Linked DNA regions of Homo sapiens: all the other regions are linked to region 5. The links come from fine-mapping of genetic effects on gene expression. A gene starts in region 5. Each other region holds a variant in brackets. All regions are shown on one strand. Distances are from middle to middle.

Region 1 (4,066 bases), 55 kb before region 5:
AAGAGCACTTTGGGGAGCCAAAGTGGGAGGATTGCTTGAGGGCAGGAGTTCGAGACCAGCCTGGGAAATGTAGCACAACCTACAACAAAAAACTTAGAAAAAAAAAAAAGGCCAGGTGTGGTGCCTCATGCGTGTAATCCCAGCACTTTGGGAGGCTGAGCAGGAAGGATTGTTTGAGCCCAAGAGTTTGAGACAAGCCTGGGCAACACCGTGAGACTCCATCTCTATAAAAAAAAAATTAGCTGGGCATGGTGGCATATGCCTATAGTCACAGCTACTTAGGAGGCTGAGGCAGGAGTGAAACCACCACTGCAAAATTATAACTGAGACAGTGAAAGAGATCTGACTGAACCAACTCTATCTTCCTTCTAACCTCCGAGCTGTATTTGTTCATTCCTGAGTGTAGGCTGAACTAACTTTGGGAGAAAAGTAGTTTATAATTTAAAACTTAGTTTATAGTTTAAAACAAAGATGGCAACAGCCCTTTCCCAAAACAAACGCCCTTCTTGCCTGGGGACTAGACAGCCTTTGTAGGACTAAGAAACTAGCCACAAGATTAGAAATTATGGTTTAGGAGTCATACAGCTGGATGCTACAAGATTTTGGGCCTCCTTAAACTGCTCCTAAGATCAGTGCTCAGATGTTCTGCAGACCCTGCACTTGATGGATCAACTGGCACCACCCAGATGGATAAACTGGCTCATCTGATCTTGTGGCTCCCACCCAGGAACTGACTTAGTGCAAGAAGACAGCTTCAGCTTCTTATGATTTTATCTCTGACCTGATCAATCAGCACTCCTGGTTCACTGGCTTTCCCCTACTCACCAAGTTGTCCTTAAAAACTCTCATTTCCTGGCCAGGTGCAGTGGCTCACACTTGTAATCCCAGCACTTTGGGAGGCCGAGGCGGGCGAATCACTTGAGGCCAGGAGTTTGAGACCAGCCTGGACAACATGGCAAAATCCCGTCTCTGCTAAAAATACAAAAATTTGCTGGGCATGGTGGCATGTGCCTGTAATCCCAGCTACTCAGTAGGCTGAGGCAGGAGAATCACTTGAACCCAGGAGGCGGAGGTTGCAGTGAGTGGAGATTGCGCCATTGCACTCCAGCCTGGGCGACAAGAGCGAAACTCCATCTCAAAAACAACAACAACAACAACAACAACAACAACAACAAAACTCTTATTTCCAAATACTGAGGGAGACTTTTTTGAGTAATCATAAAACTCTGGTCTCCCGCACAGCTGGTCTGTGTGAATTACTCTTTGTCTACTGCAGTTCCCCTGTCTTGATAAATTGGCTCTGTCTAGGCAGCAGGCAAGGTGAACCCATGGGTGGTTACAAGAGGATCACATGAGCCCAGTAGGTCAAGGCTGCAGTGAGCTGTGACCACACCATTGCACTCCAGCCTTTGGGACAGAGCAAGATCCTGTCTCAAAAAAAAAAAAAATCTTTTTTTCAAAGAGAACGATTTACAAGCTAATCTCTGTTCCCTGATCCATTCATTCTCCCTAGCAATCGTTTATTGTACCTCAACAGAATTACCTATATTCCCCATCTCCTCACTCCCCTCTCAAATAAGGCTATATAAGTATTTGGGCCCCACTGGGATATTGAGTGATCACTCTGATTCTCCCCTGTGTACACATTAATAAGTTTTGATGCCTTTTTCCTACTAATCTGCATTTTGTGAGTTGATTTTTCAGTAAACCTTCAGAGGACAAAGGGGAAGTTTTTCCCTTGGCCCCTACTGTCAGAGGCATTTGAACCAAAGTGAATAGGAGCTGGGTAAAATAAAGCTGAGACCTACTGGGCTGCATTCCCAGGCAGTTAGGCATTCTTAGTCACAGGATGAGATAGGAGGTTGGCACAAGATACAGGTCACAAAGACCTTACTGATAAAACAGGATACAGTAAAGAAGCTGGCCAAAACCTGCCAAATCCAAGATGGTAATGAAAGTGACCTCTGGTCATCCTCACTGTTCATTATGTTAGAATCGGTAGTTAGGCAGACATGAGCAGGGCAGGGGAGGGCCCTGTCTCCAGGAATGTCAGGTGATCATCAGATGATGGTCAGGCAGTTGTTAAACTGTCTCTCTAAAATAACAATTGGTTGTAGCCAGTGCCAGAGAAAGACAATCTCCCAATAGATAGAAAACACCTGAAACTAACTGGGCACCATGGCTCATGCTTGTAATCCCAGCACTTTGGGAGGCTGAGGCAGGTGGATCACCTGAGGTCAGGAGTTCAAGACCAGCCTGGGCAACATGGTGAGAACCACCCCCCATCTCTGCTAAAAATACAAAATTAGCCGGGCGTAGTGGTGCATGCCTGTAATCCCAGCTACTCAGGAGGCAAGGCTGGAGAATCGCTTGAACCTGGGAGGCAGAGGTTTCAGTGAGCTGAGATTGCACCATTGTACTCCAGCCTGAGTGACAAGAGTGAAACTCTGTCTCAAAAAAAAAAAGAAAAGGAAACACC[G/A]AAAACTGGTAATCAGCAGCTTCCTGGTAAGATCTTTGGAGTTGGGCAAGTGGACTAAGGCACGTTCACTAAGAGGCAAAACAGCAGAGTTTAATGGGTGTATGACCTTCCTCTGGGAACACTTGACTGGTAATGGAAACACACCTCAACTTAGCATGTGTACAACTTCAGTAAACATACTGCACATACACACAGCCCACCCCAAGGGGACAATTAAGGGAAGAGAAGCAGAAACCCTGGAACCATGCCCATGTATAAAACCTCAAGTCAAGGGCTGAAAAGGGCACTTGGATCTCTCAAGTCACCCACTTGGCCCTCTTCCAAGTGGACTTTGCTTCCTTTCATTCCTGCTCTAAAACTTTTTAATAAACTCTCATTCCTGCTCTAAAAGTTGTCTCAATCTCTCCCTCTGCCTTAAACCTGCTTCTGCCCCTTGGCTGAATTCTGTCCTCCAAGGAAGCAGGCATCTAGTTGCTGCAGCCCCATGTGGCTTTGCTGCTGGTAACAATTATATGCTAGCTATAATGCATTAGCATGCTAAAAGACACTCCCACCAGCACCATGACAATTTACAAATGCCATGGCAGTGCCTGGAAGTTACCCTACATATTCTAAAAAGGGGAGGAACCCTCAGTTCTGGAAATTGCCCACCCTTTGCCAGAAAACTCATGAATAATCCACCCCATATGTAGCATATAAGCAAGAAATAACCATAAGTTTACTCATAGAGCAGCCCATGCCTCTGCTCTGCCTATGGAGGAGCCATTCTTTTGTTTCTTTTCTTCTCTAATAAACTTGCTTTCACTTTGCAGACTTGTCCCAAATTCTTTTCTCGTGCAAGGTCCAAGAACCCTCTCCTGGGGTCTGGATTGGGATCCCTTTCTGGTAACACTACAATTCTAAGAGCTCTTTTTTATTGGTTCACCTACAGGAATAAACTGAGGCAAAATTAATGTAAGCAGAGAGTTTATTTGGGCCAAATTTGAGGGCTACAGCCCAGGAGACACAGATTCAAGTTAAGTTGCCCTGAATATATGCTGTGATTAGCAGCACTTACAAGTGGATTTTTTGGTTTTTGTTTTTGTTTTTTTGGAGACAGGGTCTTGTTATGTTGACCAGGCTGGTCTTGAACTCTTGGCTTCAAGCAGTCAACAAGTGGGGTTTTTTTGTTCGTTCGTTTGTTTGTTTTAGATGGAATCTTGCTCTGTCACCCAGGCTGGAGTGCAGTGGCACAATCTTGGCTCACTGCAACCTCTGCCTCCCGAGTTCAAGCAATTCTCCTGCCTCAGCCTCCCTAGTAGCTGGAATTACAGGCGTGCACCACCACGCGCAGCTATGTTTTGTATTTTTAGTAGAGACAGGTTTTCCCCATGTTGGCCAGGCTGGTCTCAAACTCCTGACCTCAGATGATCCGCCCACCTCGGCCTCCCAAAGCGCTGAGATTACAGGTGTGAGCCACTGCGCCTGGCCAACAAGTGGGTTTTTAAAGGAAAAAAGAAGGGGCAGTTCCTAAATTGAACATAAGCTACTAATTGGCATATGTTGTTCTTTGTATCACAAATTCCAGGAACATGAAGATAATGGGTG
Region 2 (4,066 bases), 54 kb after region 5:
GTGCAATATTCCAGTTCTCTGCCACCGTGCGGCATAAAGCAGGGCTCTCCACTCCCTCACAATGTCAGGCAATGACCAGGTTCGTGGCCTGGGTCTGCATCGTGCATCCCAGTGGAGGATGAAATAGCTTCCCTGATTGGTGTGTGTGTGTCTTAAGAGATGCTGGTGTTTTGTGGGTCCTGGGAATGACAGTGTAGGTGGGGGACAAAGGCAGAGATGGAAGAGAATTGTGAGTGGACGTGCAGGGAGGAAGATACAGCCCTGCTGAGCTCAGGGAAACCCACCGCAGTGGAGGAGCTCTGTGAGTTTGCACACATTTGAAGAATTAAGAGGTGGGGCATGTTGCGTGTGTGTTTTGGGGACAGAGAGAGTGCGAGAGTGTGATGTCGGGGATGGCTGTGTGGCTGGCTGGCAGGGAAGGCAGCTTGGATTGGGGCTGATAGAATACCCAGGCTTGATGCTTTGAGCAGGCCAATTTATTTGTTAGGCTCTGAAGTTTTCTCCTAGAAAATAAAACAATTGGTCTACATTGTCTCCGTCTCCCTGAGCGCAAAGACCCTGTTATTTGGTTCTGTGGGTGAGGAGTCTAGGTTTGGTGGTGGTACCCTGGGGTGCTGTTGTGGGGTTTTTTTCCTTTTGGGTACTGCTGTCTACCCCCAGCTCAGGCCCCTGCCTTGCACCTGGCCAGTCGATTCTCTAGCCGGTGGCACACTGCTAGAGCATGAAGGTGAGAGCGGGAGGAGGATGAGGAGGAATGTGGGCGCACCCTTCTGGCTAGGGTGGGCAGGAAGAGCCTGGCATCTATGGGGTTGCTGCAGCAACAGGAAGGATTTGATTTGGGATGCGTCGTTCCCGGAGGCCTGCTGTGTGTAGCTGGCAGGCCCTGTAAGCTGCTTGTAATTGTGAAAGGATGGAAGTGTGGGGACAGGTCATAGACATCAGTCGGCTAACTAGCCGAGGCACACTGACTCAGGCTAAGTAGTGCCCTGTGAAAACATAAGGCCCAAGACCATCCTCCTGCCAGCTTTTACATGAATTAGGGAGATTCTGTAGGGTGACAAATAGTGCCAGCTTAAGGCAGAGGAACCGGTGCTTCCTGAGTGCAATGGGAAGCCCTCTGGGTGCTGTGTCTGAACATGCGGTGTCCAGAGGTGAACTGCAGGCTGGTGTCTAGTACTGAAGATAAGCAGAGGTGGGCTCAGTGCTTGATGAACCTTCCCTGATGCCCCCAACCGAAACCCTTGAGTCAGACTCACCCCTGGTTAGTCTGGATGACTGTTGGCAGTAGGGATTGTCTTGCCAGAAACTGGGGTCAAAACTTTCAAATATATGCAAAATAGACAACAGTGTAATGGAACCTTGGATGTTTGTCATCCAGCTTCTATTACCAACCTTGGGGCAATCCTGTTTCATCTTTACCCCCACCCCCAGCTCTCCCTTCTTACTCCTAGCTGTATTTTGAAGCAAGTAGTAGCTTTTACATTTTTATTTTTTAAAAGTTCCCCTTTAAGCTCAGGCTGGAACAAAACCGTTTGACCTTGATATTTCTAACCCTGCAAAGCTCTCTTGCTGCTCCGACATATTAAAGGGCTCTGTAGTCTGTCTATGGTACAGCTGCAGGTGCTGTCTCTCTTAAGACTGCCCGTGGTTTTCTCATTTCTCTAAGGGTAGATACATACCATAGATTTCTTGTTTACTTTGTAATATACATTGTTGGGAGAAATAACACTATTAAACTGATAATGGCTCAGACTGTACATGGTAACCTTTGGGACCGAGAAAAAAT[G/T]ATGTCCCCTATGTTTGACAAATTTTTAGATCTTTTTTTTTGTTTGTTTCTTTTCCCGAGACAGAGTTTCGCTCTTGTTGCCTAGGCTGGAATGCAGTGGTGCGATCTCGGCTCACTGCAACCTCCACCTCCCAGGTTCCAATGATTCTACTGCCTCAGCCCCCTGAGTAGCTGGGATTATAGGTGCCTGCCACCAGGCCCAGCTAATTTTTGTATTTTTATTAGAGATGGGGTTTCGCCATGTTGGCCAAGCTGGTCTTGAACTCCTGACCTCAGGTGATCTGCCCGCCTCAGCCTCCCAAAGTGCTAGGATTACAGGCATGAGTTACCACGCCTCACCAAATTTTTAGATCTTTAAGAAACTGATTCAGGAAAATTTTGATAGAAATAATGAAAAACTCCGTGCCACAAGCTACATTTAGTAAAATTTGATATGGATGAAACTGTTCATTCAATCAAATCTATTTGAAATAGAAAGGAATCAATCCTCAGGAGAATAATTTTGACTAAATAAAAATGAAAAATTAGAAGCACCTCGGTGTGAAAAATAATCAAGGAACTAAATGGGCTTAATGGAATTCTCTCCAGAAGATGTTTTCAAAGGAAACTTTGTTCTGAGATAATTTGGATTAAAATATATGCCAGACATCCTCAGGGGTGAAACGGTGCTATCAGAATGGCCAGTTTCTATCTCTGGTCCTCTTCAATGAAGCATCATTCAGGAGTTGAAGGGGGAGTGCAGGATGGGCAGCTTGCAGGTTGGAAGGACTCAGGCAGTCCATGAACTGCCGGTCCCTGGGATTCCTCAGAATATAGGCAGAAAACCACGGCTTTAATAAAGTTGAGAACAGACATCCTTGTCTCTTGTCCATTTTGATGTTTGTCCTGCCCATCCCTCCCTCACTGAGACCCCCCAGGGGTTATTGACCATGTTTTCAAAGGTTTTTGATCTTCCTCGGTTGGGTTGGAAAGGCCTCTGATGCTTTTCTTCATGAGCTTCTAGCCGGGGGAGGGGTTCTTTCCAGCAGTGCCTGTGACATTCACTGTAAAGAGGCAAGGACAAAACAGTATCAAGTTAAAAAGGACAGAGGCTTCCTACCAAGTGGTTGCCCCCATCGAGCAGGGGCCTTGCCCCGGGCCCTGTGGGGGTGAGATTCCTCCAGCGAAGCACGAGGGGTAGAAGCTGGCCGACCTGTCATTTGGCTGGGGCTTCTCTTTCCTCCGGGTCCTGCCACCCCGTGCCTGCAGGGTCACTGCTCACCTCACGCAGAGCCTGCTTCGCCCTGGGCTGGTATCTTTCCAACTTTCTCTAGAAGAAAGTGGGGCATTCCTTCCTCCCAATCCATGTCCAGGCATCCAGGGGGTTCTGGAAGCTTCTTTTGCTCCATCATTGCTTTGGCCAAGTGCTGGGGGGGTGTATGCATACTGAGCCCAACCATTCCCAAGTAAACCCCAGAGTCCTTTTGGATTTTAAGTACTAAGACATTTAGAAAGGGGAGTGGGGAAGGCAGTAGGAGGCCTGTGCCTCTAGGTGGGGAAATTTTGCCTGCCCCGTGCCTCTCTGCATCTCATTCATGCTCCTGGCTCCCCTGTGAATGGGGTCCAAGTTGTTCCTCAGAGCAGGTGAGACTGTGTGGTGGGGGGTAGGAGGCTAAGCTCAGGCAGGCATGAGGGCTTTCAGGATCAGCCTCTCTAGACCCCATTTTCGGGACTCTGGTTGGGGATGAGCTCAGCTCCTACAGCAGCAGGCCTTCTCCCCACTTCTCCTCTGCTCCTCGTTGGCGGTCTCTGCAAATCTTATACCCTCCAAACCTCCCTGCCCATCCCGACCTGTGTGACGGTGGCCACTGTGTCCTTGATTTGTGTGGAGAGCTAAGGCTGCGCTGCCTTGACTGGTACTTCTTTGTCAGGAGTTTGCAGCACCGGCAAGTGGTGTTTAATAGAAGTTTAGAATGAGGCTGGGTGTGGTGGCTCACCCCTGTAATCCCAGCACTTTGGGAGGCTGAGGCAGGCGGATCACCTAAGGTCAGGAGTTCAGCCTGGCCAACATGGTGAAACCCCGTTGTATCTACTAAAAAACCCTGTTTCGTATCTACTAAAAATACAAAAATTAGCTGGGCATGGTGGCGGGCACCTGTAATCCCAGCTACTTGGGAGGCTGAGGCAGGAGAATCATTTGAACCCAGGAGGTGGAGATTGCAGTGAGCCGAGATCGCACCATTGCACTCCAGCCTGGGTGGCAAGAGCAAAACTCCATCTCAAGAAAAAAAAAAAATTTAG
Region 3 (4,066 bases), 39 kb after region 5:
TTTTCCATAGCTTCGTCATGCACAGCGGATGTTACTTTAGCACTTACTTGAGTGAACTCATGTTCAGATTGGCAAATTTCCTCTTCCTTTTTCTGCATGTGTCGTTTTGTTGACTCATTAACACTGAACTCACAGCCAACAGTGGTATAACTTCTGCCTGAACGAAGCTCATCTAACGCAAGCATTTTCTCCATAAGGCGCATCACAGCCTTCTTGTACTTAGGAGCACTAGAAAGCACTTAATTGCTATACTTGGAGGCCAATTTATAGAGAAAAATCATCAACAAAAAGCACAAAAATGTCAAAAACACAGCACTAAAAGGACCGAGGAAAGGACACTTGTGTACAGTATGAGAGCCAAAACAAGAAGGCAGGGTGGCTTCTTGTTGGACATCAGCTAGAAACGTATGTATCAGGTAGCTCATTTTTTCACCACTCTGTGCATGTCGATGGATGGCCCCAAGAACACTGCAAGTGTTGATTTTGGGGTTACAAATAAAGCTTAGTAAGTAGGCAAATTCACAAATACGGAAGCTGTGAATAATGAGGACTGACTGTATTTGCCAAGAGCCACATGGAGAGGCTTATTTGTTAGTGCGCTGAACCATGTGGCTCTGATGTAGATGGCAAAGGGAAGAAGCTAGGGAGTGTGTCACTGTGTGTGTGTGTGTTGGCGGGAGATGCTGCCCATCAGGAAGGCTTGAGGGGAAAGGCTTGAGGGGAAGGACACACTGTGCACACTCCGAAGCACAAGAGGAAGGGTGGCTGGTAAAGACAGAAGAGCAGAGATCTGAGGGGAGGGGTCAGTGCAGATATGAACTTGGGTAAGGAAGCCAGAGCCTTGGAAAGAGAGGCTTAGGGGAGCTAAAGGACCAGTCAGGAAAGGAACAGCATGGACAGCTGAGGGTGCCTTACGCCTCAGCCTACCCTTCAGACTTGGTTGAGAAGCTGCAAAGTAGCCATGGTAGGCTCTTGAGTTAGGGGGCTTAGGTTGTGTTTGAGAAATTGATGTCCTTACATTAATGGCAGCTCCATTTTTTGCCATTTTTTGAGCGCTAATGATGTATTAGGTGCCACACACACTGCTCTGTGCGGGGGCTGTCATTGTTTCCCTTTTGGCCTTATAGTACGAATGAGGAAACTAGTCTTGGAGCCCAAAGACTGGGCCTTTACATAAACCTTTCCGGTGTTGTGGCCTAATCTAAGAGAATGTGAAGGGAGACTGTAACAGACTTGGTTAATTATCTATCCAGAATGCAGGGAAAATGGGAGTCAGTGGTATGGCGGTGACAGTTTACTGGATGGAAGGGAGGAAGAAAGGAGGATGGAAGGGAGGAGGAAGAAGAGTAATTTCAACACTCTTTGTATACCAGGCACTTTCTAAGTGTTTTACATGCATGAGGGGGAGTTACGTAAACATGCGCGCGCACACACACACACACACACACACACACACACACACACACACTTACTTTTGCAGAAGAAGAAACTGGGGCTTAGAGTCTGTGTTCTCTTAAGGGGCTATCTGCAGCCCTGATTTGTTGAGGCTGTGCTAGGGGCCTGGGTTTGTGGTCATAGGTCTTTTATGTACATTATCTCATTTAATCCTTACAGCGAGTACTTTTTGCAAAGTGGTACTCTTTTCTTTTTCTTGTTTCTTTTCTTTTTTTTTTTTTTTTTTGAGATGGAGACTTGCTCTATCGCCCAGGCTGGAGTGCAGTGGCGTAATCTCGGCTCACTGCAACCTCTGCCTCCCAGGTTGAAGCGATTCTTCTGTCTCAGCCTCCCGAGTAGCTGAGACTACAGGTGCACACCACCACACCAGGCTAATTTTTGTATTTTTAGTAGAGACAGGATTTCGTCATGTTGGCCAGGCTGGTCTCTAACTCCTGACCTCAGATGATCCGCCTGCCTCGGCCTCCCAAAGTGCTGGGATTACAGGTGTGAGCCACTGCGTCCGGCCTGCAAGACGATATTATTTTCATCATACTGAGGGGGAATAATCACTGAGGCTTGGGGACTTTAACATCACAGACCTTGCGAGGACAGGAGTGAAGGTTTAAACCAAGTCTACCTGGTTCTGGCTGGTGCCTGGCACATAGGAGGCATTTATGACTATTTGCAAATCTGAAAGACACTCTGGCACATCTGAGGAGAATGGGCTTTTAGGACTAAAGGCAGTTTTTGAGCTCATTGGTGCAGTTATTTCCCTGCACACCCCTGCCTCTTCTTGGCTAGGGTAACTGAGAAGCTCTTGTTCCGAGAAGCTCTTGTTCCAAGAATCTGGAGTCCTTGGGAACTTTCCCCTCATGGTGCCCTGTTCCTGCTAGGACTTCAGTGTGGCTTTGTCATGCCTTCCTTCTTCCCC[G/A]TCACTTTATCTCTGCAGAGCCACTTGCCTGCCTGGGGGCAGTTCTTGCCACGGGACTTTGGGTGAGGAGGTCTGGCTCAGTGACGTTCTTCCCTGTGGCCCTGGTCACATTCCCCCTGGGTGGCCACAGGCCAGTTCCTGGGAACTGCGTCATTCCTGCTGCCCAAAGTAAGGGCACGTAGTGGAATGACAGGGCATCTGTCTCAAAGCAGAGTTCCTGGAGATTTATGGCAAGAACTGAGCATGGACTCTTAACTCTCCTTCGCCTGAAAGATCACATCCTGCCTGACAGTCTTGGCTGAAGATTCTGGGAAAGAAGCAGCTGCACTTTGGAAACTTGGAATCTTGAATTAGGATGGGGTCAGGAAGGAGATGTGTTGCAGCTTTTGACCCAGGTCAAAGGCTCCTGACACACACAAGTAGATTTTTGGGCTTCTGCCAGAAGGGTTGCACCTCCTGCTTGGCTGGCTCTGCCTCGGGCGTCTGGGGCTGGAGCAGGGAGAGTGTTGCTGATCTTGAGGTTTTCTTTTCTTTTTTCTTTTTAGATGGAATTTCGCTTTTGTTGCCCAGGCTGGGGTGCAATGGTGTGATCTCGGCTCACCACAACCTCCGCCTCCCGGATTCAAGCAATTCTCCTGCTTCAGCCTCCCGAGTAGCTGCGATTACAGGCATGCGCCACCACGCCCAGCTAATTTTGTATTTTTAGTAGAGATGGGGTTTCTCCATGTTGGTCAGGCTGGTCTCAAACTCTTGACCTCAGGTGATCCACCCACCTTGGCCTCCCAAAGTGCTGGGATTACAGGCATGAGCCACCGCGCCTGGCTTAGGTTTTCTTTTCTGGTGATGCCATGAACCATTTGCATTCAACCCCATTCTGTCTGGCAGGTGGCAGGAAGTCCGCGTGGGGGACTGGTTGCAGGCAGGTCTTAGCCAGGAAGCACTGGGCTGGAGGAGCTGCCCTCCATCACCTTGTTAGTTGGGAGGTTTGTCATGGGCAACTCCCTTTTTCTTATCTCCTTTGCTATTCACAGAGGCATGGCTGAGCCCCCCTTGGTGCTGCTGGGCAGGCAGTGTTCTCTGTGAAGCTAACAGGTGTGGTTTGTCACCACAGCATAGTGGTTAGAGGGGAAACAGGGTGTGGAGTTTGGTTCCCTGAAACCATGATGCTCTTCAGATGTTTCCTTCCTTCTTCTCAACTGTACTCTGCTTTCAGTAAAGTGATTGCATGGACATGGATAGCCCCTTCCCCTCTGTAAACCACAGGCATTCCCTGGCAAGAGTGGCAGAGTGATTAATTTTTCAGTGAAAGGAAATCAGAGCATAGGTTGTGTTTCTGCTACGAGTTTTGTCGACACAGGCTGGCCTTTTTATGTTGCCTGGTGACGAGGTTTGGGCCCCGGCTGTGCACTCTTGGTGCACCTTCTGTTCCTTTCCTGACTCAGAGGATGCCCCTGCTTTCCTTCCTTTCTTTTCTACTTCTTCCCCAGCCCTTCCAGTTGTGACTTCTATGAAAATCTACCCTGAAGAATCTGATGAAATTATTCATGCTGAGAAGTAAATGACTGATAAGACTTAGAGATTTATGGTCTCTGGGGCTTCAAGTGGTTCTGACTTACAAACATTCCCATAGCTTGGAATACCCTGCTTCCAACCTGGTGGGACTGCATATTCCCAACTCAGGGTTCATCATGCTGTGGG
Region 4 (4,066 bases), 75 kb after region 5:
CAGCCTTCCCACAGAGGAGGAACATGAGCTAAGTTGCAGAGTCCCCAAGATATGTGTGTGTGGGTTCCCCGTGTCTTGAGATGGGCCTCCTGTTAATATAGCCCTGGGTGAGCCCAGTCGTTCCATCTGGTGTCTGTCAGTCTCCAGAGCTAGGAGCATCACTGACATGTCACGGCCTTGTTAAGAGTTTACTAAATATTGGAAGGACGACCTGGCCAGTGGTAGCTGATGCCTCTTGTTCATCTTGTGGAGTTGACTGTGGTCACTGTATTATATTACTCTGATGGCTTTCCTTCCTGTCTTCTGCAGGCCTTATTTTGAACTCAAGGCAAAGTACTATGTGCAGCTCGAGGTATGTGTAGCTTTGGGCTTCGTCACTGATGAGATTTTTCTGCACTCAAAGCTTCACTTTTCTGGGGTAGCAGAGTATCACATGGGCCACTTGCTATAAGGGGAAAGTGGAGAGACAGGCTTTACTGAGTTTTCAGACCTCAAAATTGTCTCGGTTGGGTCTTCAGTGGTCTCTGAACCTCTGTAACTGCCATTCAGTCACCTTCTCTGTTGTACTAGGCCAGTGGTTCTCACAGCATGCTCTTAGGACCAGCAGCATCAGCATCACCTGGAGACCTGATAGACCAGGTCCCACTCTAGACCGACTGAATTAGAAACTCTGAGGTTGGAGTCTAGTGAGCTGAGTCTTAACACCCAAGGGGATTTTGATGCAAGCTCAACTTTGAGAACCACTGTACTGGGAACCAGATGTCTAGACTGTGGGACTTTGGTGTGTCTGATGCCCATTTTTGCTTCCCTGATGGGGTTTGTTCCACCAGTGAGAGTTTTTGGATATTAGAGGTTGTCACCTGGATGGGATCTGGGGATGGTGGTGGCTGATTTTGTCTGGTGAATGAATAGCAGTTACAATGGTAATTAGGTCTTCAGTCATGTCTTGGAAAATTCCTTGAAGTAGAATGATGGGCAGAAAATGTACTTGAACCTGTCATTCAGAAAGCATCTTAAGGCTAGCAGGGTAGTCTTCACTTAGTCTCCTGTTCTCTTGATCAGCAACTGAAAAAGACTGTGGATGACCTGCAGGCCAAACTGACCCTGGCAAAAGGCGAGTACAAGATGGCCCTGAAGAACCTGGAGATGATCTCAGATGAGATCCACGAGCGGCGGCGCTCCAGTGCCATGGGGCCTCGGGGATGCGGTGTTGGTGCTGAGGGCAGCAGCACATCTGTGGAGGATCTGCCAGGGAGCAAACCTGAGCCTGATGCCATTTCTGGTAAGTCAGGGGCTCCACTGGGTATGTGGGGAGATATCAGACTGTGTGATTTGTTTCCCAAGGTCCTCACTTTCTCTGGCCATCAGTGAAAGGTCTCAGAGTTGGGCAGGCCTGAGGGCTATTTCTGGTGGGTTCCCATGTTTTATGGAACACTGTGTTCATTAAGAAGGTACTAAGTGTTCCTCAAAGTCAGGATTCTGTGGTCAAATAAATTGGGAAAATGTTACACCTTCACTCCTCTTTGAGAGTCAAAGTATACATTTGAACATTCAAGGCTGAGAAGTCCTGCAGGAAAGAAGAGCTGTAATCAGATTTGATTCAAAGCTACCTTTACATCATTACTAAGGCATGATGTGGGCAAGGGCCTAACTTTGTATTTCAGTTTCTTCACCTGTAAAATGGGGAGTATGACGCTATCTACTGTATACTATCCGTTGTGTAGGGTGGTGGTTCAGCTTACATGAATCAACCCCTGACACCCAAGAAGCACTCAGCAAATGGTGGCTCTTACTGACATCTGACCATAGAGACCTCTTTTCCCAGGGCCTCCCCCTGGAAAACTGATAGAAGTTTGACTTGGTTTCTGTCATGCTCATCAAGAAAACCCACCCAACGCTGTCTTTGCATACTTCCTTTCTTTTCCTTACCTGTGCAATAATCCCTGTCGGCTCTTTCCCAAGCTCCTTCCTCAGGAGTTAATTCCTTCAACAAATATTTAAGTACTA[G/C]GTTCAAGGTAAAGGAAAAGGAAACTATCATTTGAACAACTACTATGTATGAGGTACTTTAATATATACATCATCTCAAACCCTGCATGGAGAGGATCATGAAGCTTACAGAGGTAAAGTAACTTGACCAAGGTCACACAGCAAGTAGTGGAGTTAGGGATTCAATTCAGGTCTGAGCCCATTTTCTGTCCCCAACATTACAGTATTTATCATTTATAAGAAACCTTTATGGAATGCTACAAGGCTGTTTTTAAAGAGAAAGGGGGGGAAAAATGGAGTAGGAAAGTTCTAATAAGGAGTGGGATTGTGGGCAGGCTGAGGGAAAACCGCTAAAGGCCAAAGAGGCTTTGAAACCATGGGAATAACATGTGTCTGGGCCTTGTTACTTTGGTCTACCAAATAATGTGGCTACAGAGCATTGTAAAGGATTTCTGTTCTTTTGCAGCAAATGGTGATGTGGGTAGCCTTTGAGTGTGTTCTTTATGAGATCAGAAGTTACCTGGAGATAACAAAGGTCCCAACAGATGTTCCATGCTGGCCTGTTTCTTCTAGCAGCTCTTGCTTCTATTGCCCTAAGAAAGAAGCCTGAGTCCAGCTGGCTTTGTTTGGGATATGTTACAGAGGACTAGAACCTCTTCCTGTGCACATGAGGATGTATTTGGGGGACTGAGGTGGAGTAAAGGTCCTAATTTGTGGCTGAATTAATCTTCCATTTTTAGGTGGTGTCTGGTGACACTGATTTCTTGGCAGGGTTATAAGGTTATTGGAAGGGCGCTTAATATCCATGGGATCCTGCTGCCAGCTGCTTCCCTTCCAGCTGCTTTAGAGGCTGGTCATTCAGGCTTGGGAAGTCACATTCCTTCATTAGGCACTCACAGAGGTAGAGACTCTTTAGTCCCCCATGCTGTGTCTAGCTGCCTGCCAGCAGCAAGCACTTGTGGTGTTTGAGGAGGTGACAGAACCCATGTGACTGGTGTTCTCTCTCAACTTAGTGGCCTCGGAGGCCTTTGAAGATGACAGCTGTAGCAACTTTGTGTCTGAAGATGACTCGGAAACCCAGTCCGTGTCCAGCTTTAGTTCAGGACCAACAAGCCCGTCTGAGATGCCTGACCAGTTCCCTGCGGTTGTGAGGCCTGGCAGCCTGGATCTGCCCAGCCCTGTGTCCCTGTCAGAGTTTGGGATGATGTTCCCAGTGTTGGGCCCTCGAAGTGAATGCAGCGGGGCCTCCTCCCCTGAATGTGAAGTAGAACGAGGTGAGTAGCAGCCTTCTCACCCCGTCCCAGATGCCACACTGCCTCTGTAGCCTGACTGTTGTGCCATTCCATACCTCTGCCAGGTCTCAGGGCCCCCATGCTGCATTACCAGGTCTCTGTGGTTGTGCTGTCAGTATTGATCACTGAGGTTGTTTCCAAGTGCTGTTCTGGGGGGGCTCCTGGCTCCACTCAGCTTCTATAAAGTAGAGCTTAGGTCCTATGTCTCACATCAGAACAGTCTCCTTGGCAAGCACATAGTAGAGAGGTTTGTTTCTCAGCAATAAAGTGAATATGGCAAATTTCATCTCTATAGCTAAGGAATATATAAAACATCACAAGGAATAAAAGCAGTAAATGATTATGTACTGAGAACCTCTCTGATAGGCACGGTAGGTAACAGTGGGACTTCTACAGGGCTGAGTTAGCTGACTGGTTTGAGCTCAAGTGACTTAGAATTGTCAATACTCACTTTTGATAATCTTTGTATTTCTATAGGAGACAGGGCAGAATTGTCAATACTCACTTTTGATAATCCTTGTATTTCTATAGGAGACAGGGCAGAAGGGGCAGAGAATAAAACAAGTGACAAAGCCAACAACAACCGGGGCCTCAGCAGTAGCAGTGGCAGTGGTGGCAGCAGTAAGAGCCAAAGCAGCACCTCCCCTGAGGGCCAGGCCTTGGAGAACCGGATGAAGCAGCTCTCCCTACAGTGCTCAAAGGGAAGAGATGGAATTATTGCTGACATAAAAATGGTGCAGATTGGCTGATTCATCCTGGGCCCTGGCCGATGTGCATATCAACATTTA
Region 5 (4,066 bases):
TACAATGCAAATATGTACATAGTTGTCATATACTGTATTTTTTTTTTTTCTAGAGAGCAAGGCAGTCTCGCTTTGTTGCCCAGGCTGGTCTGGAACTCCCGGCCTCCAGTGATCCTCCTTGCCTCAGCCTCCCAAAATGCTAGGATTACAGGTGTTAGCCACCACTCCTGGCCATGTATTTTTAAATATGCATTTTTTTAATTGTTGTGTTTTTTTCCCCCAAATATTTTCTATCTGTGGTTAGTTGAATTTACACATGTGGAACCTGAGAGGCTATGGAGGGTTGACTGTATATAGTACTGCCTGTGGTTTATTTATTTTTCTCATTTTATCTTTAGAAAGACTATTAGGATTAACACTATAGCTGGCCCAGATCTCCAAAAAATAAGACAACAAAAGTCTGAACTGATGTTCTTGAGCAGTTGGCCTATGTCTCATAGATGTATTTTGCTCTTGACCTAAGCTTAAGCAGGAATGTAGTTTGGAGTTTGCCATTTAGAATGGAGAGGATAGGGTTCTGCTAGCTGAGAAGCATTTATCATAGTCAGGGCTGACCCCAGAGTTCTGTTTATTTCAAACTCTGTCTCTCAGTTCATTCAGAGCTAGGATGTACCTGCAAAGTTGGAGGCTCAATTCCAAGCCACCAGAGAAGGTTGGTGGCTCCTGTGTTCCAAAGTGACCCCTATGGCTATCTTGTTCCTGGCTTCATCTATCATTGGAAAACCAAAAGCAACTATGTCTTTAGCAAGGAGCTTTGAAGCACCTCTCACAGAATTGCTGACTCATCCTTGATTTAAAGAGCAATGAACAGGTCTGACCTTTTTAGAAACAAACCATGGCACTACCTCCAGGAGACAGGACAAATTTCCTTTGACAGTGGACTACAGTGCCAGCGTGTATGGGGTGGTGCCTTGCCCAAGGAGTAACCCTCTAGCCTAGTTTCTGATAAAACCACCAGGAGCAGGACTATTTATTCATTTGAGAAGGGGTCTGGCTGTATTGTCCAGGCTGGTGTTGAACTCCTGGCCTCAAGTGATCCTTGTGTCCTGGCATCTCAAAGAGCTGGGATTACAGATACGAGCCACCACGTTGTGCCAGACCCAGGTTTTGTAAGGTGGCTTTGATGATAGGTTCTCAGAAAGAAGCTCCTTTCTCAAGCAAATTTGTCCTCCAAACTCAGAGCCGATGGGCTACAGGCCTCCGTGTAGGACATGTGCACGTTCTGCATTTCTCAAGGCAAGGAGACGTGAGCAGCCATGTGCTCATCTGCTTTGCCAAGGTCATCCTTTGCGTTCCCCTGACATCACAGTGGCCCTGACATTTCATAAAAGCACACACACGTGCCTCTTCAGTTTGGCCTTTTCGGATGCTGTGTCTGCCAGGCCAACTCTGTCTCCCTACTTGTTGATGGTGGGCAGAAAGTCTCACTAATTCATAAATTCTTGGCCAGAGTGTGCCCATCAACAGGGGTTACACTTGCCACCTCCTTAAATCCCAGCTCAATGCATTCTCCATGCTCCTGGCTATTCAGGTAGGACCGCCGCACCTCTGTGTTTCGGTATGGGGCTCGCCCAGAGAGGCCGCAGCCTTCGGCAATGCATCAGTGCACGGAACCTCCGCCATTCCCAAGGTTCGCTCAAGAGGATGAGTGTGCTTTGGGTATAGGGTTTCGGCAAGTCTTGGTCCTGAGGGCCAGGGTCACTGAGCGTAGGCTTCAGAAGGCGACTTCAGTGTGAAAACACCCACGCCTCCCTACCACACAAACAACGAGCCTCGGAGGAGGGCTGGAGGAGGGGACTCCCGAAAGCGGGAGGCTTGCGTTACGTAGTTGAGATATATCCGAGCTGCTAAGTTACAAGGGGGTGGGGGCTGTCCTATTTTGCCACCTTGGAGATGTGGAGGGAGCTGGGGTTTTGCGACGGAGACCTGGATAGCTGGGACTGGCGGCGGAACGCGAGGCCGGGGCGGGACGGGGGCGGAGCGGGCGCTGCGCTGACTGCCGCGGCAGAAAGGGGGCGGCCGCGCCCATTTCCTCTGCTCCGCCGCGGCCGGAGGTATCCGCATCGGCGAGCTGCGTCTCCCGGGTGTCGGCCCCGGCGGCTCCCCGACCGTGCCCGGCTGTGGCGAGGCGGCTCCAGCCCAGCCTGTGGCAGCCGCGACCCCCGGGGCGCTCCGGAGCCCACTGCGCGGCGCGCGTGCCGGCTGCCTGCATGGACGCGGCACTGAAGCGGAGCCGCTCGGAGGAGCCAGCCGAAATCCTGCCGCCTGCCCGGGACGAGGAGGAGGAGGAGGAAGAGGGGATGGAGCAGGGGCTGGAGGAGGAAGAAGAGGTGGATCCCCGGATCCAGGTAGGGCGCGCGGGGTCGCCCCGCATCCGGGCTTCGCGAGGGCTGCTACGGAGGTCGGTGTCTACGCGTACAGCCACTTCGCAGCCCCCAGTAACTGTGGTCCGGGGACTGGCGGCCACATAGGGTGGCAGGAGACGGTCTGTATGCTCCGTTTCATCGTCTCCACAATGAGGAGGCTACAGTGCCCGCGTGGATGCGGCCTGACTCTATTGCGGGGAGTCCCCCGCCGACCCGTAGCAGGATCGGGGTCGGTGCAGCGTGCCTGGTGGTTCGGGTGGATGTGCAACAAAGGGAAAAAGGGGGCGGGGGCGCCATGGTATCCTCGGGGGTACCCCTGCCCGGCCGCGGCACCGCGGGCATGGCACGGCGTCCAGGCTCTGCGAGGAGGTGTCGCCCGCGTGGGCGCCGGGCACCGTGGGCGGGTGGGCGTTGCCCTGCAGCGCGGGCTGGCACCGGTGCCCCGGGTGCAGAGTCCTCACTTGCCAAGGTGCCCGGCCTGAGCCGTTTTCCTTCTCTGATTGATTGTTAGCGAACTGAGCGGCTTATTGTCATCACTGGCTCAACGTTCTGCCTGGCTTGAAATTGCTTAAAACCCTGCTTTTCCTTGTTGTGAGGTTGGGCATGAAAAGAAATCGGGGACAACTGATGCGCAAAGCTGACGCGTGGAGGCGGCGAGGGGATTGGGCTGGCTGGCTGTGCCTCCATTTCCAAGAGAGATGATTAAAAAACAATTTCCAAGCCGAGATCTAGGAGTGACAGTTTCACCTCTTCACCCCTAAGCAAAAAGCAGAGCAAATCCCTTTCTAAGGCCCGTTTTTTTTCTACCTTTTCAATAAATCATTTTTTTAAAAAAATTGCTTTTAAGCATGCTCTGTAATTTCTGGATACCTAATTGGTTTTTTAGTGCACAGATCAATTTAAAAGCTCACTTAACTCAGTGGTTGGGGTTTAAATGAATTGTTTTGTCAGCTTAGCAAGATAAAGATCAGGTGGAAAAAAAATCCTTGCATTAGGAATGCTATTAATTAAAGTAATTGGTTTGGAATAAATCGTGTGTTACTGGTATGGGATTATGTTAGCAAGATCCTTTGTTTGCATAGTAATGATGAGTTAAGTTCATGTTGGATACTTTTTTTACAAAATGTCAGTTTGTAAATGTTTATTGAAAGGAATGGGATTAAAGCTAGTTTAAAACGTCCAGCTAAGTAGGTTGAATAATTGGCAGTGTGAAAAGATTTTCACCCTTTACAGAAAAATAATTCTGGTGAGTTAATACCAGAATTCTGCCCTTGATGATTTCACTGGGTTTATATTTTTGGCTTGGCCTTGCTTATTGTCTTTTATTGTTTTCTAAGCAAAGTTCTTGCTCAAGGCAGATGGTACTGTTTTGATTAGGCCATTAAACCATTTGTAACAGGTGGGGTTTACCTGAAGGCATGTACCTGGAATAGTTGACCTCTGACAAATTCCAAATGTCTCTGAAGACATTGTCAAAAGGGACACCCTCAAGAAAATGGTTTCAGAAATGCCGACATTCATTTGCTTTTCTAGTCAAGCCTCAACTGTTTGCCGTAAGAATTAATTCTGATTCTTCCCTTTTCCTGCAAATTGGGCTGGGGTAATTTTTCAGGTTATGGACTGAGTTATATTGGAAACAAAAGACGGATCCCTTAAGTCTTTTTTTCTCCCTCTTTTCTTCACCAGGGAGAACTGGAGAA
Region 6 (4,058 bases), 63 kb after region 5:
TTTCGCCATGTTGGCCAGACTGGTCTCAAACTCCTGACCTTGTGATCCACCTGCCTCAGCCTCCCAAAGTGCTGGGATTACAGGTTTGAGCCACCGTGCCCAGCCTCTGTGAATTTAATCTTTAAATTTTATTTATTTAAGAAGCAGGGGCTCATTGTGTTACCCAGGTTGGAGTGCAGCGGCATAATTGTATTTCACTGTAACCTCAAGCGGTCTCCTGCCTCAAGCTCCCAAGGAGTGGGGAATACAGCCATGTGCCACCATGCTCGGATAATTTTTTAATTTTTTCCAGAAGTAGGGTCTTGCTATGTTTCCCAGGCTGGTCTTGAATACCTGGCCTCAAGTGGTCCTCCTGCCTTGGCCCCCCAAAGTGCTGGAATAGAGGTGGGATCCATTGCACCCAGCTGAAATTAATTTTAATAATATATTTAATTTAATTTAATATATCCAAAATATTATTTCATCATATAATAAAAATTATTGAGATATTTAACATTCTTTTTTTTTTGTACTAAGTCTTTAAGATTAGGGATGTCTTACATTCAATTGGGATTAATCACTTTTTTTTTTTTTTTTTGAGATGGAGTCTCACTCTGTCACCCAGGCTGGAGTGCAGTGGTGCAATCTCGGCTCACTGCAGCCTCTGCCTCTTGAGTTCAAGTGATTCTTCTGCCTCAGCCTCCCAAGTAGCTGGGATTATAGGTGCCCACCACCATGCCTGGCTAATTTTTGTGTTTTTAGTAGAGATGGGGTTTCACCATGTTGACCAGGCTGGTCTTTAATTCCTGACCTCAAGTGATCCGCCTGCCTCCCATAGTGCTGGGATTACAGGTGTGAGCCACTGCACCTGGCTGGGATTAATCACATTTTGAACAATCAGTAGACACATGTAGTGGGGGCAGCTCTAGACGTGGTGGTCAGCTACAGTTGGTATTGGTTCTCCCACCTGATGCTCCTTGAAAGCAGGGACCGTGTTGTGTTAATTAATTAGGTCCTTCTCTTTGCCTGCCTGGTGCCATACTTGGCCTGTCGCTGGTGTCAGTGGGTGTGAGTTGAGTGGGAGACTGTCTGGCAGAGTGACAGTGCTGGGCTGGAACTCATACTGGCTGGAGTCTGGCACAGCTCTGCATCTAGTCAGCTGTGTGATCTCAGGAAAGGCTGTGTCCTCTCAGCTAAGGTCCCCCTTCTATAGAGTGAAGTCTTTGGACCATGATCTCTGGGGGCCTTCCTGGTTCTGACTTGCCATGAATTGAGCCACAGATCTGGGCAGGGAAGGTGACAGGCCTCGAGTGAGGCAGAGCTTCTGAGAAAGGCTGTGGGGTTGGCTGTACCTGTCCCACGATGGGCTGGTTTGCCATGTCAGGTTCTGGCCAAGGGCTGATGTGTTTATCTCATCCATTGGGCCCAGAACTGTGGAAATTGTTCGCTCACTGATTTGTTGCTCACTCCCCCATCAGGGGTCCATTGCCCTGTCTGGCATCTATGAGGACCTGTGGGTGCCAGGAGTGAAGAGGCAGAGATGAGCTTGTCCTGGTCCTTGGGATGCTTATTTTTTGAAAGGTAAAATGGACCATGGGGAGCCCCTGCCATTTTCTGAGGCCTCATGAGGATTCTTTCTCACACAGGCTCAGCTGGAAGCTCAGAAAGCCACGCAGGACTTCCAGAGGGCCACAGAGGTGCTCCG[T/C]GCCGCCAAGGAGACCATCTCCCTGGCCGAGCAGCGGCTGCTGGAGGATGACAAGCGGCAGTTCGACTCCGCCTGGCAGGAGATGCTGAATCACGCCACTCAGAGGGTATGAGTCATGGCCGGGTGTGCTGTGGGGGTGTGCGCGTGCATGCGCGCTGGCTTCCCCTGAGCGGAGGTAACAGACTCGACTCCCAGGCATGTTGCCTGAAAACACCCTGAAAATCACAGGTTGTCATCTCCGTATGATCTCTTGGCTGCGCTTGGTACGAAGCCAGTGCTCCAGAATGAGTCACAGTGTCTCTCCGTGACAGCGAGAGCTGCTCCTTCCCTTATGTTGCTTGAGGTTTGTCTGGTTTGGGTCATCCCCAGGGGGTCTTGACTGGACTCAGGCTTCCAGAGGGACGAGGTTTTCCAGGGTTTGCTCCCATGGAACCCCAGCAATACTGGCTGGGTTTCGAATCTGTGATGGGGAGACCTTGATGAACAGCCCTAAATGGGGGCTGCACTTCGGGTATGTGCTGTCGGAGGAAGGCAGGGGTCATGGCGGATTAGACCAGAATCAGGTGTGTACTTACGACAGGCCTTCTGGGCTGGGATTCAGGGAGTTGACAGGCACAGAGGAAGCGGACTGTGTGTGATCCTTACTCACAGCTTGGCTTGCTGGGTTTTATGTCATTATATTGGGTTCTTTACTGGCTCTCATGACCACCTCTCTGACTGCGTTACTCAGAGCCAGAAATGGTGTGCCTTAGTCTGTACAGGCCAAGACAAAATACTAAACAAAATACCATAAACAGGGTAGTTGGTAAACAATAGAAATTTATTTTTCACAGCTCTGGAGGATGAGAAGTGCATTGGTAGGTAGGACATTGGTAGATTCAGTGTCTCATGAGGGCCTGTTTCTTGGTTCACAGATGACCATCTTTTCCATGTCCTAACACGGTGGAAGGGGTACATGAGCTTATAAGGTCACTAATCTCATTCATGATGGTTCTACCCTCATTACCTCATCACTTCCCAAAGGCCCTATCTCCAGATACCCTCACACTGGGGATCAGTTTCAACATAAGAATTTTGGGAGGACACAAATGTTCAGACCATAGCAGCTAGGGACAGTTCTTGGCTCAGCAGTACTTGGTTACCCCTGCCTAACTCTATCGGGTTTCTTAGAAGTCACGCAGAATGTTCCTGGATACCTCTTCCCCCTTCCAGGCTTGGCTCCTGGGCTGCCCAGGCTCATGTTCCTGGTATCCCCCCACACCAGCCTGGGTCCATTGTGCCCCTCTGCATTCTCTGTCTAGATTCCCAGCGCCTGGAAAACGAGTGTAGGGCTGGTTTGCTGCAGGGTGGGTGGGTGAGCTGACCTGTGGCTTCAGCAGCTCCAATAAGACCCTGGACGGCGCGGGTACGGGGTTGCAAGAGGTCTTGGTGACTCCTTGAGAAAGCCGTCTGGGGGACTGGATTAGAAAAGTCAGCAGGTTAATGCCAATAGGATTTCCCTTTTAAATGTCACCTGCCACAGTGGCTCAAGTCCTGGGGGATCTGATAATTAAAGATGGCCTTGTGCTTCCTTAAATAGAAAGCTTGGCACACAAATGACTTCAAGAGTCAAATCCGCGTTGACTTTACGCACCTCTCCCTGCAGCCTGAGACTCTCGGCTGAGCTTGGCTTTGTGTGGCCTTGCGCCTCCTGCCCCCTAGTGGGCGTGATGCTCACAGAGCTAGACGTGGGCTAGAAACAACTTTTCTGGGTCATCTCGAGAAAAATGGAAGGGGTGGCTGGAAATCTTGGAAGTTCACAAGCCAAAGCCCGATAGATATGAAAAGGACAAAATGTAAGGTAGCTTCTTCCAAGAAATTAGCTGAAGGGCCACTTTTCCTTTTTGCCCTTCTTCCACCCCAGCTGGAGACCCATGTCAGCCTATAAGCAAGCATTTCAGAAGTCATTTAATCTGTTGTTTAAAGATAAACAAACCATGCTTCTGCTTTGTGTATCTCTCATTTTTAAGTCCCAGGGCCCCAGTGGATAGTGGGTGGCCTCCCAAGGAGTGGCATCCCCAGACCTCCACACTGTATAACTCAGGGCACCGTTCATACCACAGACTTTGGGAATAGCGCTTTTTGGAGTTGTGCAGTGCAAGACCTGTGGGGCTATACAAGATGGCCCTGTACTCCTGAGGTCATGAGGGCTTCATAGGGCCCTGGGAGGGCCAGCTGATATGTGCCTTCTCTGTGGCCACTGAAGGGAAGGGCCCATTTGGTTTTCTTGGGCTTGGGGGCAACCTCTGCAGATTGGCAGGTGTTCCGGGTCACATGCCAGGATTTCCACCTTTGAGCTGATATTCCTCTTCCCAGATCCCTTCACAGTTGCATA
Region 7 (4,066 bases), 180 kb after region 5:
CCACTTAGAGTGGCACATTGTTTTATTATTCTGAACATTTAGGGTGTTGGAAAATAAGCAGAAATCAGAGGAAAATGTAGCTGCTGAGACCCATGTAAGCTCATCTATTTCTTGTTTTTTTGTTTTTTGTTTTGAGATGGAGTCACATTTCTTTACGTTTACAAGATAATTGCTCAACTTTTCTATTTATTTTTCCTCAGTAAGCACAGTCTTAGGTGTTAGAAATTCATTCAGGAACATGATTGATGGATTTTTGCTATTTTATTTAGAAATAATGAAAATATTCCTTCCCATTTTTATTATGTTTTAAAATGTCCTTTAAGTGTTATTTTATTTTTTCTGCCTGGTCTGTGGTTCAATGAGCCCAGTCAATGTTAGGAGAATGACATAAGGTCTATCCCACCCATTAGGACCATTGACTCCAATTTCAGACAAACAGGATAAAGCAAATTCTTGTCTGTCTGGAGTGAAAGATGGTTTTGTCCCCCTTCTTTACTGTGCCAACATTATAAAACCAAGATATTTTGTAAAGACCCTTTAGTACAGGGCTAGAAATATAGTGCAAGTGACATTTATAATTTTAAATTTTATAGCAGCTATCTTAAAGAAAGTAAAAAGAAACAGGTGAAGTTAATTTTAATAATATATTTTATTTATCTCAATATATCTAAAATATTATCATTTCATTAGTAATTAATATAAAAATTAATAAGACATCTTACTCTTTCTATACACTATCTTCTAAATGTTACTTTACACTGAAGGCACATCTCAGTTTGGACCAGACACATTTCAAGTGCTCAATAGCCCCTGTATTTGACAGAACAACTCTAGTAGGTCTTAGTTTCTTTTTAATGCATTTCTCACAAGAGAAGGCGACTTCACAATGTGTTGTCCTCTGAATGGCTTTTAATGTTGTTGGCTTGAAAAGCTGGTCAGATTGGTCTACTCAACAGCAGAGACATCTCTGTGCAGATGTAGACCAGTTTCAGAATGGGGCCCATAAATTTGGAAGTTCAAGTTGAAAGTGTACAAGAACAAATAACTAAATCATTGTTCCAGTTACCCATAACTTACAGTCCCACTGTCCCCCACAGCTCTCACAACTTAGTTGTGTAAAATAATCATTTTATTATGTTCACAGACTCCGTGGGTAGGGACACTGAAAAAGAAGCAAAAGAGGGGCCTCTTTCTTCCATGCCTGGGGTCTCAGCTGGGTTGACTAGTCTCAGACTAGACCGTCTGGGCTCTAGAAGCAGGAGTTGGAGGACCCACTGCCCCTTCTCACATGTCTGCTGCTCTGGCGTCTTAGCTGGAACTGCACAAGGACAGGTGGAGCTGGAACCGACAGGAAGTACTCCAGCAGGGAGGGTCTGTCCTGAGAGTGAGTGCTCCAAGAGGCCAAGGCTGAAGCTGCAAGGCTCATGACCCAGCCTCAGAAGTCAGGCTGTAACATGGCTTTCTCATGCTGTTGGTTGCAAGCCAGTCACTAAGTCCAGACCAGATTCAAGAGGAGGAGACTTTGACTCCTCCCCAGCATGGAGGAGGGGCATGGTCACAGAGCATGTGGAATGGGAGATATTGTTTTCTGGCTTTGGAAAATGCAATCTGTCAGACTCCCAAATTCTAGATATTTAAAAAATATATATGTTATGAATGTGTGGTTAAATAATAACTTACGCATTGGTTACACAGCAAAACCTTACTTATGGAACAAAGTCAGATTTTCTAAGGTCACAAAAAATATTTACATAACTTTATAGTAACAAAAACATCTAACATTTGTTGACAGTTTTATATATGCCAGACACAGGGCTAAACATTCTTAGTTTCCTCTCTCTCTCT[A/C]TATATATATATGTAATAACATATATAAATATAATAATAACATATATACATATTATTATTATGTGTATATATGTATATATGTTATTATTATTATTCCCATTTGTCATAAAATAGCCAAGCATTTGAAAACCTTTTAGTGGTGTTAGTCTTTCCATTAAATCATAGCTATTATTTATAGCTTTAAGCAAATACTGTGAGTAGATGAGAGACCAATTTTTAAACATTATAGAGCTTAATATTTGAATTAGAAATACTGTTTTCCACAGCAGCTACACCATTTTACATTCCCACCAACAGTGGACAAAGGTTCCAATTTCTCCACATCCTTGCCAACACTTGCTATTTTCCTTTTTTTTTTTTTTAAATAGTAGTCATGCCGAGTGGGTTTATTTTTAGTTTTGTTAAAAAATAAAATTTTCCTTGATGTCTCTGCTTTTATCAAGAACATTTGTTTTGTATATATCAACTATTTTCTAATAAACACAACAACCAATTATTCACAACTGATAGCACTATATATTGCAATATAGTACAGTAGATATTTTAGGATCGCATTTTCCAGATGAAGCTTAAACACCACACATTGAAGCTAAAAATACAAATAGACTAGGAAGAACGGAGGAAAACAGACATTTATTTAGCATCTACTGTGTGTGAAGCCCTGCATTAGGCATTTTGTATGTATTATCACATTTAATCTTCATCACAACCCTGCTAGTATGTGTTAATACTTTCGTTCTATAGATGCAAAAGTAGAAACTCAGAGAGAGTAAGTGACTTGTTAAGGTTGGAGAGGGTTGGAGATGTGTCCAAAACTGTCTATCTGATGCCAGAACCTATGCTTTTCTTGTTATCTATTGCTAAGTATAAAACACCTCATTTGTTCAATCCATATACTTTGTGAATTATTTCCAATACAGCATCTTATACATTCAATACAACAATCCTATGAGATGACTAGAGTCAGTATTATCTAGATTCACATTTATAAATGGTGAAAATTGTGATTCATGGCATCTTGTGATCTTGTGCTTTTGTCTTAGCTCACACAACAGGCTGGAAGCAGAACTAGGACTCAAATACACGCCCTTTCATTCTAGATCCATAGTTCTTCTCATTTTCTCATGTCTTTTTACTGTCCTGAATAGCATATGTAGTTATCAACCTAATTAAGTCAAAGTTAGATGTTACAAATGTAGATTGTCTTTTGATTAAAGCTCATGTGACGTGCAGTACTTTCCAATTAATATTTAATCAACTTGGCAAAAGGCATGATATCTACCATTCCCTTCCTAATCTAACACCTAGATGAAAAGGTTATATTTATTAATATAATTCAGTAAGTCATTCTTCAAATCCTGGTTGGATGTCTATTGTATGATATCAGATGCTGTGTTTGGGGCTAGAAATGCAGCAATAAAGAAATGAGACATTGTCTTTGTCTCCATGAACCTCACAATATAGCAGGAGATTCTGATGTGTAAAACCACATTTCACTATGATATGTGCTGATTTGTATCCTCCAAATACTACAAGGAGACTGAAGGGACAGTTGGGTGGGGTCAACAGAAAAAGCTTCTCAGGAGAGGAGGTGACACAGGACTTATACCTTAGGAATGGGTAAGAATTCACCTGGAAGAGAAAGGGTCAAATAATGGTTTATTCCTTGAGGGACCACAACGAAACCTCCATCCAATTTCAGCTGACTGAAGAAAATGTTCAGACAGACCTTCTGTTTTACTTGAATTCTGAAGTTTTGCCCATAAGGCTTAACTGAATTGATTAAAAAATGCAGATAGTTTGGGTTTGTGTGGTTTGGAGTCATCTCTATGAGCAGTTGATGGATTAACAATCTGAGTGCCTTGCAGGTGACCTGAGCAGGATTTTGAGGTTGTAAAAGCAACGGTAAGGACCAAGTCATATTTTGGTCATTTTGAAGGTCCTTATTGCTGGCTTGAATTGGCTGTAGCTTTGCCCCAGCCACTTTGCCCCAACCACTTTGACCCAACCTGGAGCTCAAAAAACATGTGTTGTATGAAATCAAGGTTTAAGGGATGTAGGGCTGTGCAGGACGTGCCTTGTTAACAAAATGTTTGCAAGCAATATACTTGGTAAAAGTCATCCCCATTCTCTAGTCTCAATAAACCAGGGGCACAATGCACTGTGGAAAGCCGCAGGGAGTCCTGTCCTTGAAAGCTGGGTATTGTCCAAGGTTTCTCCC

Evidence for each region. PIP is the estimated chance that this variant, and not a neighbour inherited with it, causes the effect.
Region 1: its variant is fine-mapped to the expression of SH3BP5 in whole blood (INTERVAL, PIP above 0.99).
Region 2: its variant is fine-mapped to the expression of SH3BP5 in whole blood (INTERVAL, PIP above 0.99).
Region 3: its variant is fine-mapped to the expression of SH3BP5 in whole blood (TOPMed, PIP above 0.99).
Region 4: its variant is fine-mapped to the expression of SH3BP5 in whole blood (TOPMed, PIP above 0.99). The same link has a PIP of 0.9 or more in skeletal muscle.
Region 6: its variant is fine-mapped to the expression of SH3BP5 in whole blood (TOPMed, PIP above 0.99).
Region 7: its variant is fine-mapped to the expression of SH3BP5 in whole blood (TOPMed, PIP 0.99).

The regions. Positions count from the first base shown.
Region 1 is chr3:15,385,199-15,389,264 of GRCh38, reverse strand. It overlaps a transcript of METTL6 not described here. Among named protein-coding and RNA genes, the nearest start is that of METTL6, 40 kb to the left of the region's middle. The variant G/A (reference allele first, on the strand shown) is at 2,480.
Region 2 is chr3:15,276,948-15,281,013 of GRCh38, reverse strand. The region is part of intron 3 of SH3BP5 (SH3 domain binding protein 5); the gene reads left to right. Among named protein-coding and RNA genes, the nearest start is that of SH3BP5-AS1, 25 kb to the right of the region's middle. The variant G/T (reference allele first, on the strand shown) is at 1,787.
Region 3 is chr3:15,291,693-15,295,758 of GRCh38, reverse strand. All of the region lies in intron 3 of SH3BP5 (SH3 domain binding protein 5), which reads left to right. Among named protein-coding and RNA genes, the nearest start is that of SH3BP5, 39 kb to the left of the region's middle. The variant G/A (reference allele first, on the strand shown) is at 2,369.
Region 4 is chr3:15,256,047-15,260,112 of GRCh38, reverse strand. It overlaps SH3BP5 (SH3 domain binding protein 5), which reads left to right. Exons shown (of 9, transcript NM_004844.5): 6 at 310-352; 7 at 1,063-1,282; 8 at 3,000-3,260; 9 at 3,810-4,066. The coding sequence ends at 4,027. It overlaps SH3BP5-AS1 (SH3BP5 antisense RNA 1), which reads right to left. Exons shown (of 3, transcript NR_046084.1): 1 at 2,507-4,066; 2 at 1-1,479. Among named protein-coding and RNA genes, the nearest start is that of SH3BP5-AS1, 3.9 kb to the right of the region's middle. The variant G/C (reference allele first, on the strand shown) is at 2,008.
Region 5 is chr3:15,330,553-15,334,618 of GRCh38, reverse strand. It overlaps SH3BP5 (SH3 domain binding protein 5), which reads left to right and starts at 2,033. Exons shown (of 9, transcript NM_004844.5): 1 at 2,033-2,348; 2 at 4,053-4,066. The coding sequence starts at 2,211. RefSeq lists silencers at 1,925-2,324, 2,405-2,464.
Region 6 is chr3:15,267,445-15,271,502 of GRCh38, reverse strand. It overlaps SH3BP5 (SH3 domain binding protein 5), which reads left to right. Exons shown (of 9, transcript NM_004844.5): 4 at 1,626-1,790. Among named protein-coding and RNA genes, the nearest start is that of SH3BP5-AS1, 15 kb to the right of the region's middle. RefSeq lists enhancers at 1,626-1,925, 1,986-2,035, 1,103-2,302, 2,482-3,020, 3,021-3,560 and a silencer at 3,348-3,457. The variant T/C (reference allele first, on the strand shown) is at 1,685.
Region 7 is chr3:15,146,170-15,150,235 of GRCh38, reverse strand. No RefSeq gene overlaps it. Among named protein-coding and RNA genes, the nearest start is that of RBSN, 49 kb to the right of the region's middle. The variant A/C (reference allele first, on the strand shown) is at 1,846.